2 separate regions of the Homo sapiens genome follow, and region 1 is linked to region 2. The links come from fine-mapping of genetic effects on gene expression. A gene starts in region 2. The other region holds a variant in brackets. All regions are shown on one strand. Distances are between the middles of the regions. Region 1 overlaps ETV4 (ETS variant transcription factor 4). Region 2 holds the start of ARL4D (ARF like GTPase 4D).

Region 1 (8,322 bases), 130 kb after region 2:
TGTGGGACAGCAGGGTCATGGGAACAACTGGGATCACAGAAACCAAAGACCAAAACCCTGTCTGAGGAAGTCCCAGGAGGGAGACCCTTGCCACTCAGTAGCCCACCTGACCCGCCCACAGGGGCAGGGAGACTGCTGCTGGAAGCAGGCCCAAAGTGCACAAGGGGCGCCTGTCCAGGTTATCAAGTACCCCCTGTCCATTATTTCTGGATCCTCACACAGTAATGCTGGGAAGGGGGAAGGGCAGGTATCATTAAGCCCATTTTTCAGAAGAGAAACAGTCAGGTGAACTGCCTTTTTTCAAATCTACATGAGGATTTAAGCGCCAGGGCCTGGCCCCAAACCAGTCAGCTCTGCTTCAAGACCAGAGCTCTTTCTACCCCCAGGTCTGTTCCCACATGGCAGCAAAGAGGACACAGGAGAACTAATGGGAGAAGTGGGGGCCTTTATTAAGGTCTGGCAGATGTGGTGGAGGTGGAAGTACAAACCCAGGCCTGGGCCTAGGAAAGGGCAGAAGAAAGGCAAAGGGTCCCTTGGAGCAGGAACCCATCCCTCTCTGCTTATACCCAGCACCCCTCATCCCAGGTTCCTTTCTTCAACCTCCGCCTGCCTCTGGGAACACAGAGCACCAAGAACTGACAAACCGGGACCCTCCAGGGCCACAGCGTGGGGCAGAGTCCAGGCTTCTGTCTCCCCGCAGTGGGAGATCTGGGGAGCTCAGTGAACCTCCTCACCCTCCTGCCAGTATGAAGTTGGGAAGCGCCTTCTCTGTCCCCCAGAACAGAACAAACTCTTGTTCTCTGTGGTTGGGGAAAAGGTGTGGGGGGCTTGGACCTAGGAAGAAGCTGAGCTGAATTCCTCCAGGGCCCAGGTGAAACCCCCAGGGGAGTTTCTGAGACTCTAGACTTGCCATTTCTCCACTTTTCCTTCCCAATGACTCCGGTGAGCAGCTCAGAGTCTGGGCTAGGGCAACTGGTAGGACAGTGGGGATCTGCCCCAGAGACATCTGTGGGTTTCAGATGAAGGTTTCCCCAACACCAGATTCATTTATATGTACACAGGGCAGCACCCACCTGCGGCAGGGGGAACAGCCGCTGGGGGCTAGTAAGAGTAGCCACCCTTGGGGCCAAATGGCTGGGCGGGGCCAGCCAGCTCTGGGAGGTAGGCGGGGCTCTCATCCAAGTGGGACAAAGGGACTGTGTCCTCCTCACTGACAGGCCGGTCAAACTCAGCCTTGAGAGCTGGACGCTGATTGTCCGGGAAGGCCAAAGAGAAGAGGGCCTCGGGCTCACACACAAACTTGTACACGTAACGCTCACCAGCCACCTATGGGGAGAGAGAAGGTCTGGTCAGCCTGGCTAGCCGCCCAGCCTTTGTATGGGGTAAGGTGGGGGAGTGGGGAATGTGGCCCTTCTACCAGTACAGGCAGATGCTCGGGGCATTTCTCTCCCATGCTGGTTCCTGAGAAGCTGACTCTCCCTTCACAGTTCTTACTCCTTTTTCATCTCAACTTCTCCATGCTTGGGCTTCTCAGTTACAGTGTTGCACTTTTTTGGGGGAGGAGAACCTTGGGATTCTCCACAATTTCTTGTCTCTCTGACTGATTCATTATCTGATCCTACAAAGTTGCTGAGAACTGCCCTGCTGACCCTCTCCCCAGTCAGCTTCTCACAGCCACTGCCCCCCACCACCTTGTCCCTAGACCCACAGCCCCCACCTTCTGCATGATGCCTTTCTCATAATAGTATCGGAGCGAGCGGCTCAGCTTGTCGTAATTCATGGCTGGCCGGTTCTTCTGGATGCCCCAGAGCCTGGCGACCTGGGAACAAAACAGTTTTGGGGTAGAGATGCTACCTTGGCAGAGGAAAAAATGGGGGTAAGGTCAGAAAGAGCACTTGAGATTCTTGGTGCAAAGTGCCAAGCTAGCTCTGCAACAAAGCATCAGCCCACAGACTTAGGCTTGGCAAGAATTCAGGTTAGGTAAAGCAAGAATCATGATGGAGGCACGTGCCACCATTTCCCAGGTTCTCCCACCTCCAGGCTGTAAACTTTGGAAAGGAGGGCTGGGAACATCCGAGAGGCCCACCTCCTCAGGCTCAATGAGCTTGAACTCCATTCCCCGGCCCGTCCAGGCAATGAAATGGGCATTTGTTGGGTCATCCAGCAAGGCCACCAGAAATTGCCACAGCTGCAGGGCACCCCGGCGCTGGTAGGGCGGCCCCTCTCGAAATGCACCGACCCCTTCCTGCTTGATGTCTCCTGGGGAACACGAAAATAGGAGGTGTGGGGTTTGTGTCTTTTGGTCCCCCAAGCAACCGCCTCCCACCCGAGGGATTTCTCGAAGGGGTCTCCCCAGGTACTTTTCTATGGGTCCCACCCTCTTGCAACAATGAAACGTGATGTGACTCCTGCAGGGACACAGCGTGATAAGACCTTGACCCTCCCATCAACAGTCACTTCTCTGACCTTCAAATTTCTCAGGGACAACGCAGACATCATCTGGGAATGGTCGCAGAGGTTTCTCATAGCCATAGCCTTGTGGAGGAAATTGGGGGTTGCTCAGATCTGGGGGTTCACCGATGAGACCCCAGAGAGTCCAGAGGGACTCCTGGCCAGGGAGACCCTCCCCCATGGCAGCGCTCCCTCCCCCAACATGGAGGGCTTGGCAGGGGAAGGGGGGCTGCCTTACCCATGGCCCCGTCACCTGGAGAGGGCCCAGAGAAGCCCTCTGTGTGGAGGTACATTGATGCGCACCCGGTGACATCTGTGGGGGAAGAAGGGGTGATGTGAGAAGTGGCTTGGGGTGGAGCTCGAGGGCAGGGGAGGAGGAAGTCCTATCCACATTCAAGAATTTCTTCCTTCCAGCCTGCTTCCTGGTGACTGTTCTTTGCCCAGGTTGCCTGCCAACCACAAAATCCCAGGGAAAGTTCACCCAGAGGGAGTGTGATGCTGGAACCCCTCCTCAACTTGAGGGCTGCGGCTGAGGCCATGGAAGGCAGCAGCGGGGGCTGGGCAAGCTGTTCTGAAGGGCCCAAGCTGCCAGGGAGCAGCTGTTTCCTGCGAGTTCAGGGGGAGGAGGGAGGGTGAGATGAACGTCCGGGGAAAGAGTTCGGTGTCCACGCCTAAGACTCCCTCAGAATGGACAAAAATGTCCGGTCAGCAGGTCAGGTTCCCAGCCCTGTGCACGCGCGCGTGTGTGTGTGTGTGTGTGTGTGTGTGACAGAAACAGAGCGTGCGCCTGCATGCACCTGGGGAAGAGGCAGTGGGCACTGGGCCTTGTTTTTTCAGGTCTAACAGAGCACATTCCACTTCGTTTCATTCCATTCCATAGGATAGGAACCTTCCCACTCCACATCGGGAAGGCGGCTGTGTGAAGCCACCCGTTCAAGTTCCAACCCCTTCCCGCCCTCCCCCCACTGCACTCCCACCTATGAATGAGAAGATGGTGAAACATGACACCTCCGGGAGGAGGCGGGAGGGTGGGCTCATTCATGCCTCCATTTTGTGAATGGAATTCCTGACTCCATTCAGGAGTAGCTGGGGGGAGGGGCAGGAGTTCAAGGGCATGTAACACAATCCCCTCCGGTCTACAGCCTTTGAAGGTCAGCGGCAAGAGTGCCTCCCTCCTCCTCTCCCCAGCTCACTGCCAAGCCTGGCTCAGGCTTATGCCCTGGATTTGAGGACAGGAGCACCATCCGGTTCTTAGTTGGACAGCCTGGGGGGTTGTGGTTCATCCCCCTGCCCTTGAACGGTTGTGGGCACCACAAAAAGGGAAATTCTAAAGTTCTAGCTAGCTCTGGGCCTACTCTAATAAACTCAGATCTAGGGCTACTAATGTAACAAAAGCCAGGAGGAAAGAAGAAAAGGCAGGGTTTTCTGGACCCTTCCTGGGACTGGCCCTCCTTCGGCCCTTGAGGCTTTGAACTATAGCTATTTATGAACACAGGTGAGTGCATCTCACTCCAGTCAACAGCCAGGTGGAACTAGAATTTAAAGAAGTCCCTACTTCCTCTGCCCTTGCCTCTGGCCAGGGCATACATCAATTGGGAGGCTCAAATATGTAAGCCACATATTAACCTGTGCTTCTACCAGCTTGATCAACATGGTGAAACCCCGTCTCTACTAAAAATACAAAAACTAGCTGGGCATGGTGATGGGCACCTGTAACCCCAGCTATTCGGGAGGCTGAAGCATGAGAATCGCTTGAACCCAGTGGCACTCCAGCCTGGGCGAGAGAGCAAGACTCCATCTCAAAACAAACAAACAGAGCAAGACTCTGTCTCAAAACAAACAAAACAAAACAAAACAAGAAAACCCTGCCCTCCTATTGAGAACTAGCAAGAACCATGAGCCTGGCTAGTTTCAAATTCATGTTTCTCTTCATTCAAATCCCTTTGTATTTTTAAGCCTCTGTGGGGATAGGGACCAGACACATCCTATTCATCTTTGTATTTCCCAACTCTGCACACTCGTGTTCCTGTCACAGTAGTTTGGTCTTAATAGGTAATTAAAACCTCAAACACCTGTTAAATAGAAATAAATGCCTTAACTTCCCTATTAAGTCACAAGCTACCTGAGGGCAGGATCTACATCCCCCTTTATTTTAATTTTACTTTTTTATAAATAGACACGAGGTCTCACTTTGTTGCCTAAGCTGGCCTTGAACTAATTCCTGGGCTCAAACGATCCTCCTGCCATGGCCTCCTAAAGTGCTGGGATTACAGATGACTCACCATGCCCCGGGGGCCCCCCTTATCTTTTAATCTGAATATAGGTTTGCTCATTGAAAAGTAATAATTTGTCCGGGTGAGGTGGCTCATGTCTATAATCACAGCACTTTGGGAGGCCGAGGCGATGGATCATATGAAGTCAGGAGTTCGAGACCATCCTGGCCAGCATGG[C/T]GAAACCCCATCTCTACTAAAAATACAAAAATTAGCCGGGCACGGTGGCTGGTGCCTGTAATCCCAGGTACTCGGGAGGCTGAGGCACAAGAATCGCTTGAACCCGGTAGGCAGAGGTTGCAGTGAGCAGAGATCGTGCCACTGCACTCTAGCCTGGGCCAGAGCAGGACCCCATTTCAAAAAAAAAAAGAAAAAGAAAGAAAAATAACATTCTTTTGAAATTATGAAGAAAAAAAGTGGGTGGGTGGGTTGGATGTATGAAATGGTAAACAGCAATGTAAAAAAACTCGGGAGACATTCTGGGCTTAACTGAACACTTGATCACATGCCACCCTGCCCCACCCCAGTCTCTTACCTGAGTCGTAGGCGAAGTCCGTCTGTTCCTGTTTGATCACCACCCCCGCCCCTGGGTACCTGTGCCCATTGACCCCACCCTGGTCCACGGCTGGCTGGCCCGCCTGTTCATACAGGGGATCATGGTATTCTTGCTTAAAGCTCTGCTGGGGATAGGGTGGGCAGGGCTCCGACAGCTGGTGTTGGTAGGGGGCTGGGAGGGGTTCCCGGCCCCCTCCCTGAGATGTGAAGGAGTGGCAAATGTCCAGGGGCTGCTGGAAGACGGAGCTGGATGTGGTTGGATGGAGAAGGAAGAGAAGAGAACTTTAAATTAATCCTTCCTCGAGCCTGTTACTCCTAGGCTTTTAGAGTGGGCTCCGGAATGGGGGGTAGGGGGTTGGGGTGTCAGTATTTCTCCCTTTCTATTCCACTGCCCCCTGCCTCTACCACCCCACAGCTCAAGTCTTTATGGAGAACACTCAGGAATTGAAAAAACACCTGGGCCCATGAGCAGTGGGTTTCCCTGTCTCCTTACCTATGTTCCCCGAGGTACCCATGGCCAGGGTGGGGCTGGGAGGTGCCAGAGGATCTCAGGAAATTCCGTTGCTCTGCCCGGGGAAAGGGCTGTAGGGGCGACTGTCCAAGGGCACCAGGGGCAGGGGACTTGATGGCGATTTGTCTGGGGGGGTCATAGGCACTGGAGTTGAGAAGGAGACAGGGGTGAGGGGGCAGAGAAGCTGGAAAGCATCTTTGAACCCTTCATTCCTAGGAAAGCGAGGTCACAGGGATTACAGGAGAAGGAAGGATAGAGGGGGCTGAGAAGGGAACGGCAGGAGCCACAGACTCAGCCCTAGCCAATTCTTTTCTTTTTCAGAGACAGTCTCCCTCTGTTGCCCAGGCTAGTCTTGAACCCCTGGGATTCATACAGGGGGGATTTGTTGCTCAGAGCAATGGTTTAGGTGGGACAGTGGGCCTCTTGGTGGAAACAGAATCTGCTCTGGCCTCAGTATATATTCCTGAGGCCCTCTGCTGCGTTTTCCGTCTATTCAGAGGAAATCCTTAGCTGTATTGCTTCCTTACAAGTGCTAGAAAATCCTTTCTGTTGTCTAACTTGCATCTCAGCTGCTGCCTCTGCTCATGGGTGCCCCCTGCCTCCCTCCTCTGGAACCCTTCTCCTACCCTTCACCAGGTCCAGGCTGGGGCTCACCTGGAGTAAAGGCACTGCTCGCCATGGTGGTAGGGGAGTGGCGGCTTCCTGCTGCAGGACAGGGCCGGGTCTGTGCGGGGACTCTGGGGCTCCTTCTTGATCCTGGTGGTGGGGCTGTGGAAAGCTACTGTGGGGGTGGAGGGGACAGAGCAAGGCCAGAGCCTGTCACACAAGAGGCAGGCAGGGCTTCTGATACCTTCTGAGCTTTGAGGACCAGCTGGGTGACTGGTACAGCCTCCTTCCCTCTCTGGGTATCAATTTTCTGAGACCCGCAGTGAGACAAGAACATTTTGGCTATTTACATTATGTCTAGTTTATACATCAGACTAGTGTCTGATTATTGACTAAATAAACCATCTAAAGTTCAACATTTAGGCTGGGCACGGTAGCTCACACCTGTAATCCCAGCACTTTGGGAGGCAGGAGTCCAAGACCAGCCTGGCCAACATGGTGAAACCCTGTCTCTACTAAAAATACAAAAAAAAATTAGCCGGGGATGGTGGCGGATGCCTGTAGTCCCAGCTACTCAGGAGGCTGGGGCAAGGGAATTGCTTGAACCCAGGAGGCGGGGATTGCAGTGAGCCGAGATCATGCCACTGCACTCCAGCCTGGGTGACAGAGCGAGACTCCGTCTCAAAAAGAAACAAAAAACAAAAACATTTAATGCAACCCCAGGCCCCAGAAAACACTTTCAAGGAGTGAGCACCTCCAACCTAGGGCCTGTAGTTTTCCTGAGTGCCCTGGAAAATTCCAGGGGAGTGACATGTTTTCTTATTTGAGGATATAAAGAATCTTTCTTGGCCGGGCGCGGTGGCTCACGCCTGTAATCCCAGCACTTTGGGAGGCCGAGGCGGGCGGATCACCTGAAGTCAGAAGTTCAAGACCAGCCTGACCAACATAGAGAAACCCCATCTCTACTAAAATACAAAAAAATTAGCCGGGCGTGGTGGCACATCCCTTTAATCCCAGCTACTCGGGAGGCTGAGGCAGGAGAATTGCTTGAACCTGGGAGGCAGCGGTTGCAGTGAGCCGAGATCACACCATTGCACTCCAGCCTGGGCAACAAGAGTGAAACTCTGTCTCTAAATAAATAAATAAAAGAATCTTTCTTTTTCTGGTTGAGGTTGGATATTGGCCCACTTGAATGTCAGCTGACTAACATTATACACATGCTCCTACTTATCTGTGAAGAACACTGGCCTTTCCTGTGGCCCCTGCGGGGTTCCCAAACTCTGGCCACGAGGCTGAGCAGCAAAGAGTTGGTTCCAAGCCGGTGTGAGATTCAGTTTTAACCGCAGTCCAGTCAAATGCCGTTTGTAACCAACTATTCTCTGCTGTTTTTGATTCTTTGTGCCCCATTGTTTCACTGGTGAAGACAGTTGACAGCAAAGTATCTGACATTAAAGCAGGGTTTGTTTTTTGGTTTTTGTTTTTTTTGAGATGGAGCCTCGCTCTGTCACCCAGGCTGGAGTGCAGTGGCTCAATCTTGCCTCACTGCAACCTCCGCCTCCCAGGTTCAAGCGATTCTCATGCCTCAGCCTCCTGAGTAGCTGGGATTACAGGTACACGCCACCATGCCCGGCTAATTTTTGTATTTTAGTAAAGACGGAATTTCATCATGTTGGCCAGGTTGGTCTCAAACTCCTGACCTCATGTGATCCACGCGCCTCAGCCTCCCAAAGTGCTGGGATTACAGGCGTGAGCCACCACACCCAGCCTAAAGCAGGGTTTCTCAACAGTGGCACTACTGACCTGTGGGCCAGATAGTGTTTTATTAATAATATTGTAAGGAGCGGTCCTGAGCATCATAGGATGCTTTTAGCAGTATCCCTGGCCTCTCTATCCACTAGACACCAGTAGCACCCCACCCTCAACTGTGAC
Region 2 (8,322 bases):
AGCATGTCCTAAGGGCAACCTGTCTCTCCAGTGTCATCCCCATTTTTGGTCCTTGTTTTTCTCCTTTAAGTTCCTCCTCTCCAATAAAGGCCTGAGAGTTCTATACTACTCAGACACTGCCTAGAAATGCAGGGTTTGTAGGAATTCCTGGCCAACCCAGTATCAACAGAACCCCCAAGGGCCCAAGGGCCCAAGGACCCCAGGCTGGGAAACTCCCACGCTAAGGGTGGAGGTTTGGTTCTCCTACTCAGGGAGCCCTCTGAGTACATTTATTCCATCATGCATTCATTAATTCACACAAGATTTTCTGACTGCCTATGTGTGCCAGGCATGGTGCTGGGCATGGTAGAGCTACAGATAAGAACCAGCTGCTGCCCTTGATCACGTAGTCTGGTGGAGGAGACAGCTCTGAGGAAGAATGATGCTTATCTGACTCAGTGTCACTTAAACCTTGGCTCAGCGTCGCCGCTTTGAAACTTTCTCCTGCACACTCTTCCACCAATCTAAAGTAGTTCTCCAGCCACATGTGGTGGCACGCACCTGTAATCCCAGCTACTCAGGAGTCTGAGGCGGAGGATCTCTTGAACCGAAGAGTTCAAGGCTGCAGTAAGCTATGGTCTCGCCACTGCACTCCAGCCTGGGTGACAGAGTGAGACCTTGTCTTTAAAAAAAAAAAAAAAAGGCCGGGCGCGGTGGCTCATGCCTGTAATCCCGGCACTTTGGGAGGCCGAGGCGGGCGGATCACGAGGTCAGGAGATTGAGACCATCTTGGCTAACACGGTGAAACTCCGTCTCTACTAAAAATACTAAAAATTAGCTGGGCGCGGTGGCGGGCACCTGTAGTTCCAGCTACTCGGGAGGCTGAGGCAGGAGAATGGCATGAACCCGGGAAGTGGAGCTTGCAGTGAGCCGAGATAGCGCCACTGCAGTCCGCCCTGGGCAAAACAGCGAGACTCCGTCTCAAAAAAAAAAAAAATTATTTTTATTTTAATTTTGAAAAAATAGGGAATGCTTCATGAATTTGCAAGTCATCCTTGCACGGGGCCATGCTAATTTCTGTATCGTTCAAAAAAAAATGATTGCTTAATGTACAAATGTTCAGATGTTCTCTGCAGGGATTAGTGTAAGCCCATAGCTTAGTGCTACCTGGACGAGCTGGGCCCCTTTTTTTACCCCTCCCCAGCCCCACCTTCTCCTTCCCATTTGTTCATTAACACCTTCTCTGGCAAACATGAAAGACGGAAGGGTGGGGTAGGATTGTCAGTTTCATTTCCTTTATCAGATAAGTGACAATTTCTGTCTTGGATGTGAGTCCCAAGACAGATTATAGGAGCCATGTTAAAGAAGCTTCAAAGATTGTGGAAGAAACAAGACAACTTGTGTATTTTCAGTTTTTGTGTGTTTTCAGTCTCATAGCCATTGTAACATTTGTTCAAAGCCAGGTTTGGCCAGTTTCTAGCTGGATGACCTTCAACAAATTACCTAACCTTTCTGTGCTTCAGTTTCTTCTTTTTAGACTAACCATACTTACTTCATGGGCTTGACTTGTGTATTAAAAAAGGAAAAGTAAGCAAAGTTCCTAGACCAGAGCCTGGCATGCAGTGGCCACTCAACAGTGCAGTGGTTCTCAACCGCTGGGCCTGCTCCGTCTTCCCCTCTCCTAACTTCACCATGCTCAGGTCTGTCTCCTGTACGTTAGCTGCTGCTGCAACCTGTCACCCTCCAACTTGGGGTGTAACAAACTAATTTCCTAAGGTCTTAATCTTAGACTAATTTCCTAAGGTCTTTAGGGATTTGGGGAGGCTCCCTGCATTGCTGGGGAAACCAGGTGGCTGGTTTTGTAGTGGAGGGGAGAAAAAGGAGGTGGCAAAGCACACTGGTGACAAACAGATGGGAAGCTTATTTATCAGCACTTGATTGAGGAGGGTGGGCAGGAAAAGGCTGGGCCGTGCTGTCTGGCAATGACTTCCCTTCTCCTTTTTCCAATCCCTCTCACACATAGCCCTTAAAAAGATTAATACTGAATTACACAATAAATAAAATAATCCACGCCTGTAAATCCCAACACTTTGGGAGGTCGAGGCGGGCGGATCACCTGAGATCGGGAGTTCGAGACCAGCCTGACCAACATGGAGAAATCCTGTCTGTACTAAAAGTACAAAATTAGCCGGGCGTGGTGGCACATGCCTATAATCCCAGCTACTCGGGAGGCTGAGGCAGGAGAATTGCTTGAACCTGGGAGGTGGAGGTTGCAGTGAGCCGAGATCGCACCATTGGACACCAGCCTGGGTAACAAGAGCAAAACTCTGTCTCAAAAATAAATAAATAAATAAATAAATAAATAAATAGATAAAGTTACAATTTACAATTTCATTCTTCTTTGATTGGCCCTCTTCTCTCCCCCACCTAATTGCTGTTGTCCTTTTGGTCACACTGCCCTTTGTGACATCTCCTTCCTTTCAGGGCTGCCCAGACTGTAGCAGGCTGCAGTGGCTGGGGAGACCCTACTCATTCCTGTGCCCCTCCTAACCAGTCCTAGATAGGGCTAAAGAACGTCTATAAACCTTTTCAGAAGCTTCCAGTTGACACATTCTCTCTCTTCTCTGAAATCCTACAAGTGCTATCTCATGATTTACAAAGACCCAATACATGTGCTGTCTCATTCTGTCATTGCCAGTCTTAAGTCTTAAGCCCTTTGAGGCCTGATTCTACAGCCGAGACATCCTCTATTTCTCCACCATCTCTCTGTCTCATTCAGAGCACACAGTATGAATGAGGTCAATAAACACAGTGTTTTTTGTTTTGTTTTGTTTTGTTTTTGTTTTTTTTGAGACAGAGTCTTGCTCTGTTGCCCAGGCTGGAGTGCAATGGTGTGATCTCAGCTCACTGCAACCTCCGCCTCCCGGGTTCAAGTGATTCTCCTGCCTCAGCCTCCCGAATAGTTGCAATTACAGGCGCCCGCCACCACACCCAGCTAATTTTTGTATTTTTAGTAGAGACGGGGTTTCACCATGTTGGCCAGGCTGGTCTCGAACTCCTGACCTCAGGTGCTTCGCCCACATCGGCCTCCCAAAATGCTGGTATTACAGGCGTGAGCTACCGTGCCCAGCCCAATAAACACACTGGTTTTTTTTTTTTGTTTGCTTTGTTTTGAGACAGAGTCTTGCTCTGTCGCCCAGGCTGGAATGCAGTGGCGCTATCTCAGCTTACTGCAACCTCCGCCTCCCGGGTTCAAGCGATTCTCCTGCCTCAGCCTCCCGAGTAGCTGGGATTACAGGCACCCGCCACCACGCCCGGCTAATTTTTGTCTTTTTATTACTGATGGGGTTTCACCCTGTTGTCCAGGCTGGTGGAACTCCTGAGCTTAAGTGATGTGCCTGCCTCAGCCTCCCAAAGTGCTGAGTTTACAGGTATGATCCACTGCGCCTAAACATACTGTTGAGTGTAACCTCAAATAGGTCATTTAACCCTTCAGGGCTTTGTGTATCTGTAAAAGGCAGACAACAGTCCCTAACAGGCTATTGCAGATAATGGGCTTAGCACTATGAAGCAGCTGTTTTATGGGGCTCCAGGTTCACCTTAGGTTTGACAATTGAATTATGAAAGATAAAGGAGAAAGACTTGTCAGCCTCTCCGAGTAGATCCTTTGGCCGAAGGAGTGTCCATGTGGGGTGGTATCTCGGCCTGGTGGAGGGGGATGCGATGGTAGTGAGAATATTAGGGTATTCATATCTTTCCTCCCGAGTCAAACGTTGCCAGGCACGTTCCTTTCGCCCCTCCCACCCTCCATTCTGCATTAATTCCAAGTTTAATTCCAAATATTAGAGTGTGGTAGAAAAGGTCAAATAGAGCAGCCACGGATTAAGCAAACGCCCCTCCGCGTATGGTGGGGGCTGCAGCGCCCGTAGCTCCACGCTCCGCCCCGCCGCCGCTGATTGTCCCGCGCCTTGTGACGTCACACGCGGGTTTTTAAGGCCGAACCCTAGGCAGGCTCTGCAGAGGCAGCGGTTGGAGGCGCGGTGGGTGTCTGCGGGGGTCTCGCGGGGCGGCTGCGGTGTTTCACCGGGAAAGGCTCGAGGAGAGCGCGGCTCACGAGAGGTAAACGGACCCTGCAGACCGTGCTGAGGCGGTCCCGGTGCCGGGCCGCTGGAGCTGGGGTCGGCCATCGGAGGAGGGCGGGCGGGCAGGAGAGTGTCGCGGGGCGGTGGGGCGAGGGTCGCGGAGTAAGGAAGGGCACCGTGTCAACGGCTTGGGGCTGCGGAGGGCGGGTGGGAGCCGGACTCAATCTCCGGTCTCAGCGTCTGCACCCTAGCTCTTAGTTTGGGGGCACTGTCGACTTCCCCCGTCCCTCGGGGATCTTGCCTGGGGGATGGCGCCATAAGCTCTGAGAAGAGGCTCTAGAAGCCCACTGTCCATGGATCGAGCCCTCACCCCCCACTTGAGTGGCCCAGGACCTGGGAGTCTCTCTAGGTCCCATCGCCCCCCTCACGACCCCCCCAGGGAGTGGGGGAACACCTCTGTTATGCCTTAAAAAAAAAAAAAAAAAGGAAAGGAATTTTAAAAATGAAGGATGGGAGGGTGATTTAGGAAGGGATCAAGAAGTTGCAAATCTTGTGTGTATTATTAAACGTCTCCTTTTTCTCCCATGACCTTTTCTTGGTTCAGATAACCCAGCTGTGCTCCCTGGAACCTTCAATTTCAAGGCCTCCCTGCCTCTACTAGGCGCCTTAGCTCACTATGGGGAACCACTTGACTGAGATGGCGCCCACTGCCTCCTCCTTCTTGCCCCACTTCCAAGCCCTGCATGTCGTGGTCATTGGGCTGGACTCTGCTGGAAAGACCTCCCTCCTTTACCGCCTCAAGTTCAAGGAGTTTGTCCAGAGTGTCCCCACCAAAGGCTTCAACACCGAGAAGATCCGGGTGCCCCTCGGGGGATCGCGTGGCATCACCTTCCAAGTGTGGGACGTCGGGGGGCAGGAGAAGCTGCGACCACTGTGGCGCTCTTATACCCGCCGGACAGACGGTCTAGTGTTTGTGGTGGACGCTGCGGAGGCTGAGCGGCTGGAGGAAGCCAAGGTGGAGTTGCACCGAATCAGCCGGGCCTCGGACAACCAGGGCGTGCCAGTGCTGGTGCTGGCCAACAAGCAGGACCAGCCCGGGGCACTGAGCGCTGCTGAGGTGGAGAAGAGGCTGGCAGTCCGAGAGCTAGCAGCCGCCACTCTCACTCATGTGCAAGGCTGCAGCGCTGTGGACGGTCTGGGCCTGCAGCAGGGCCTTGAGCGCCTCTATGAGATGATCCTCAAGAGGAAGAAGGCAGCTCGGGGTGGCAAGAAGAGACGGTGACCCAAGCCCCCCCTCCCTTTCCTCCCACCTAGTAGGGGTCTGCACACTTGGACAGCAGGGTGGGACCAGCCTGTGACCTCTCAGTCAGACTGGGGTGCAGGACCTGTCCACCTCAATGAAGGAGAGAGGAGCATGGGGTGTCCCGTTTTGGTGCCACACTGGGGTGGGGATGGGAGATGGGATGTCTTTGCATATCTCTCTCATCCTCTCTGGAGAAGTGGGCGCTGCAGGACTGTGGAGACGTAAATGTAAACTGTGACTCTACCTCGACCCTGTTTCTTATTTTTCTTCTCTGGCTAAAAATTTTTAATTGGATGTGTTTGGGGGCGGGGGGATGGAAGTGACTTGGAGAATGTGTTTGGGATGAAATAACTATCTCCCCTTCCTCTGTCCCCCAACTGGGGAGTCTCCCCAGGCTGCTTTTCTAGGAATACCAGTCACATAGTTTTTATTTTTGTGTCTGTGAAAGTGCCAAGAACCCCTCCCCACATTTGTAGATCCATGACCCTTTTTATAAGCTGTGTGTGTCCTCTGTATTATTGTTATTAACTATTTTTTAGCATTTGCCTGTAAGTTATTAAAGACTGATAACTGTAGCTCTTACCTTGGTCTGGGGCATTTTCCTCTCCTTATCTTGCCCCAGAGACAATTCAAGATTTCTATATGGGGTTGTGGCGCAGGGGGAGGGAGATTTATCTTGAAGCTGAATTTGCAAAGCAAGCACTTATAAAAATTAGATTGTGTGTTACGGGATGGCTTGTGAAAATTATAGGGGGGAGTGGAAAACCCCTCAAGCTATTGCCTGATCTCTGTAGTTTTTTGGGTGGGGTCACTTCCTTTTTCTCTGATTTAACACCCCTCCCCTCATCCTCTGGGTCTTACTTGTCCCTTATATCAACTGCTCCTTGCAGATTTAACTTCAAATTTTGCTAGTCTGAGCTACTCCTAGGTTCTTGACCTTGGTGACACCTAAGTCTATATAGGTAAGTCCTCAAAGAGCCATTCTGTTCCCATCCTCCCCACTTCCCCAGTCTTAGGTTGGTTTGATTTTTTTCCTCCTTGTAAGATGTGGTGAGAGTGGAAAGTAATTCCTCCCTGGCCTTAAGTCACCTCTGTGTACTCAATCCTGCTGACTGGCTCACTGGCATGATGGCAGCGGCTGGTGCTAGGGAGGCCTGGGCTGGATTGAGCCAGCCTGGCCCTGGTGACTAAGCCATGAGTTTTCCAGCTCTGGGAATGGTAGCTCTTCTCACGAGAGGGGCAGAAGTAGTAGCTGTTTGTGCTTGGTGGCAGAGAGGACTGCTGGACATACACCCTCCAGACTCCAAGATAGAAGGGGGAAGACATAAGCCCCCAGTATTTGTGGTGATTGTAAGAATAAAATGCTAATATTACAAGGGCTTGAGTGCCCCTACTCACCAGCACCAGGGCCAGCTATGTCTGATAACAGAACCCTTAGATCCTCTTAATCTTCTGGGTGGGAGCAGTGAGTAAGAACTAAGCACAAGGCCGGGCACAGTGGCTCACGCCTGTAATCCCAGCACTTTGGGAGGCTGAGGCAGGAGGATGGCTTGGGCCCAGGAGTTCAAGACCAGCCTGGGCAACATAGGGAGACCATGTCTCTAAAAAAGAAAAAAAACAAGCACAATTCTTTCCAGTTGTCGAGCCCTCCAGCCACCCCCTGCCACCTTTTGTGCAAACACACAATCCCCAGAGCAGGTTCAGCGTTCACACCCTGCTTCTCCCCAATTCTGTCTCCTCTTCTCCGGAATCAGATGAAAGGACCTGGGGAGAAAGAGAAGGTGCCGGCAACCCCCACTTCTGGGGAAGGTTTCCTAAAGAACTTGCTTCTTCCTACCCAGCGCTGCCAGAAGCTCAGATTTGGTCCCCTCCCCATCCCTGTAGCTGGCAGGATTGGGGTGAGTGTGCATTGATCCGGAAGGGTGCCCAAGTGTGCGTCAGTGCTAGGGCCTGCTTGACAGAACTGCTGGGCTGGTTCTGCTGGGAACATGTGCTACCTGCCCCTCCCCCAGACACACCTGCGACTCCTCTCCCAGTCTTTTTGGGGCACAGTCCTATAGCCCAAGGACAGGTTGAGGCCCCAGTCCAGGCTGGAAAGGAACTGGCCAGAACTGACCCTCTGTCCTGCCAGGAGATCTTTCCTCCCCACCCCACCCAAATTCTGCTCTTTTGTCTTAAAATCTTCAATTATACATTTTCATTTCTTGTCACTTGGTGTACTTAGGTCTCCAGATTTGGGGGAAGAGGTGCAGAGGTGTTCCCCAATCCCTAGCAGAGGGGCCTCCAAGATGTCAGCTCCTGATTCTGGCTCTTCCAACCACACTCCTTCCCTACCTGCTTAAAACAGGTATCTTCTGCTTCCCCATGCCCAGCCCTGGGGGCGGTCAGGGATCATGGTCCACAGGAGGCCTTTGAATGTCCCAGGCTCTTCCCCAGTCCCTCTGGCCTGACTGTCCAGCTGGTGGCACTAAAGGAAGATGGGGGCTTGTGTCAGAGAGAGACGGAGAAGCCAACTGCTCTGCCAGAGTAGTGGGGAGAGGGGAACACTGGGGAATTCTGAGTAGAAAGCCACAAATTGTGGCCGGGTCAGAGTCAGGAGCTTTGGAATAATCCTCCTGCCTTGGCTCATCAAAGGGACTGGAGAGCTGGAAGGGAAGGGATCACTTCCTATCTGCAGGATGAGAGAGGGAGAGAGAACCTCTCACTCTCCAGTCCTGCCCAGAGATTCTGCATTTTGAACTCAGGGCAAGGGCAAGGAATGAGGGTGTGATCAGGATGGAGAGTGAGGTTATATTTGCCCTGTACTGGCTTCTCTATTAAGTAGGATTTCTTCGAGACCCTGGCATGGGTGCTGAGGAGCTCTTCCTTGGGGGCCAAGAGTGGTGTGGCTGAGGCTAGTTGCCTGTAAAGTTGAGGGAAACCTGCTGTAGACCCAGAGTTCCAGAGTAGAGGCCGTTT

The links.
Region 1: its variant is fine-mapped to the expression of ARL4D in whole blood (INTERVAL, PIP above 0.99).

What each region holds. Positions count from the first base shown.
Region 1 is chr17:43,527,418-43,535,739 of GRCh38, forward strand. It overlaps ETV4 (ETS variant transcription factor 4), which reads right to left. Exons shown (of 13, transcript NM_001079675.5): 6 at 6,442-6,568; 7 at 5,770-5,931; 8 at 5,257-5,522; 9 at 2,690-2,764; 10 at 2,467-2,535; 11 at 2,087-2,259; 12 at 1,718-1,819; 13 at 429-1,326. The coding sequence ends at 1,102. It also overlaps a transcript of DHX8 not described here. Among named protein-coding and RNA genes, the nearest start is that of ETV4, 15 kb to the right of the region's middle. RefSeq lists an enhancer at 1,178-1,719. The variant C/T (reference allele first, on the strand shown) is at 4,902.
Region 2 is chr17:43,394,996-43,403,317 of GRCh38, forward strand. It overlaps ARL4D (ARF like GTPase 4D), which reads left to right and starts at 3,998. Exons shown (of 2, transcript NM_001661.4): 1 at 3,998-4,098; 2 at 4,666-6,142. The coding sequence starts at 4,738. The coding sequence ends at 5,343. It also overlaps the pseudogene RNU6-1137P. RefSeq lists an enhancer at 4,122-4,625.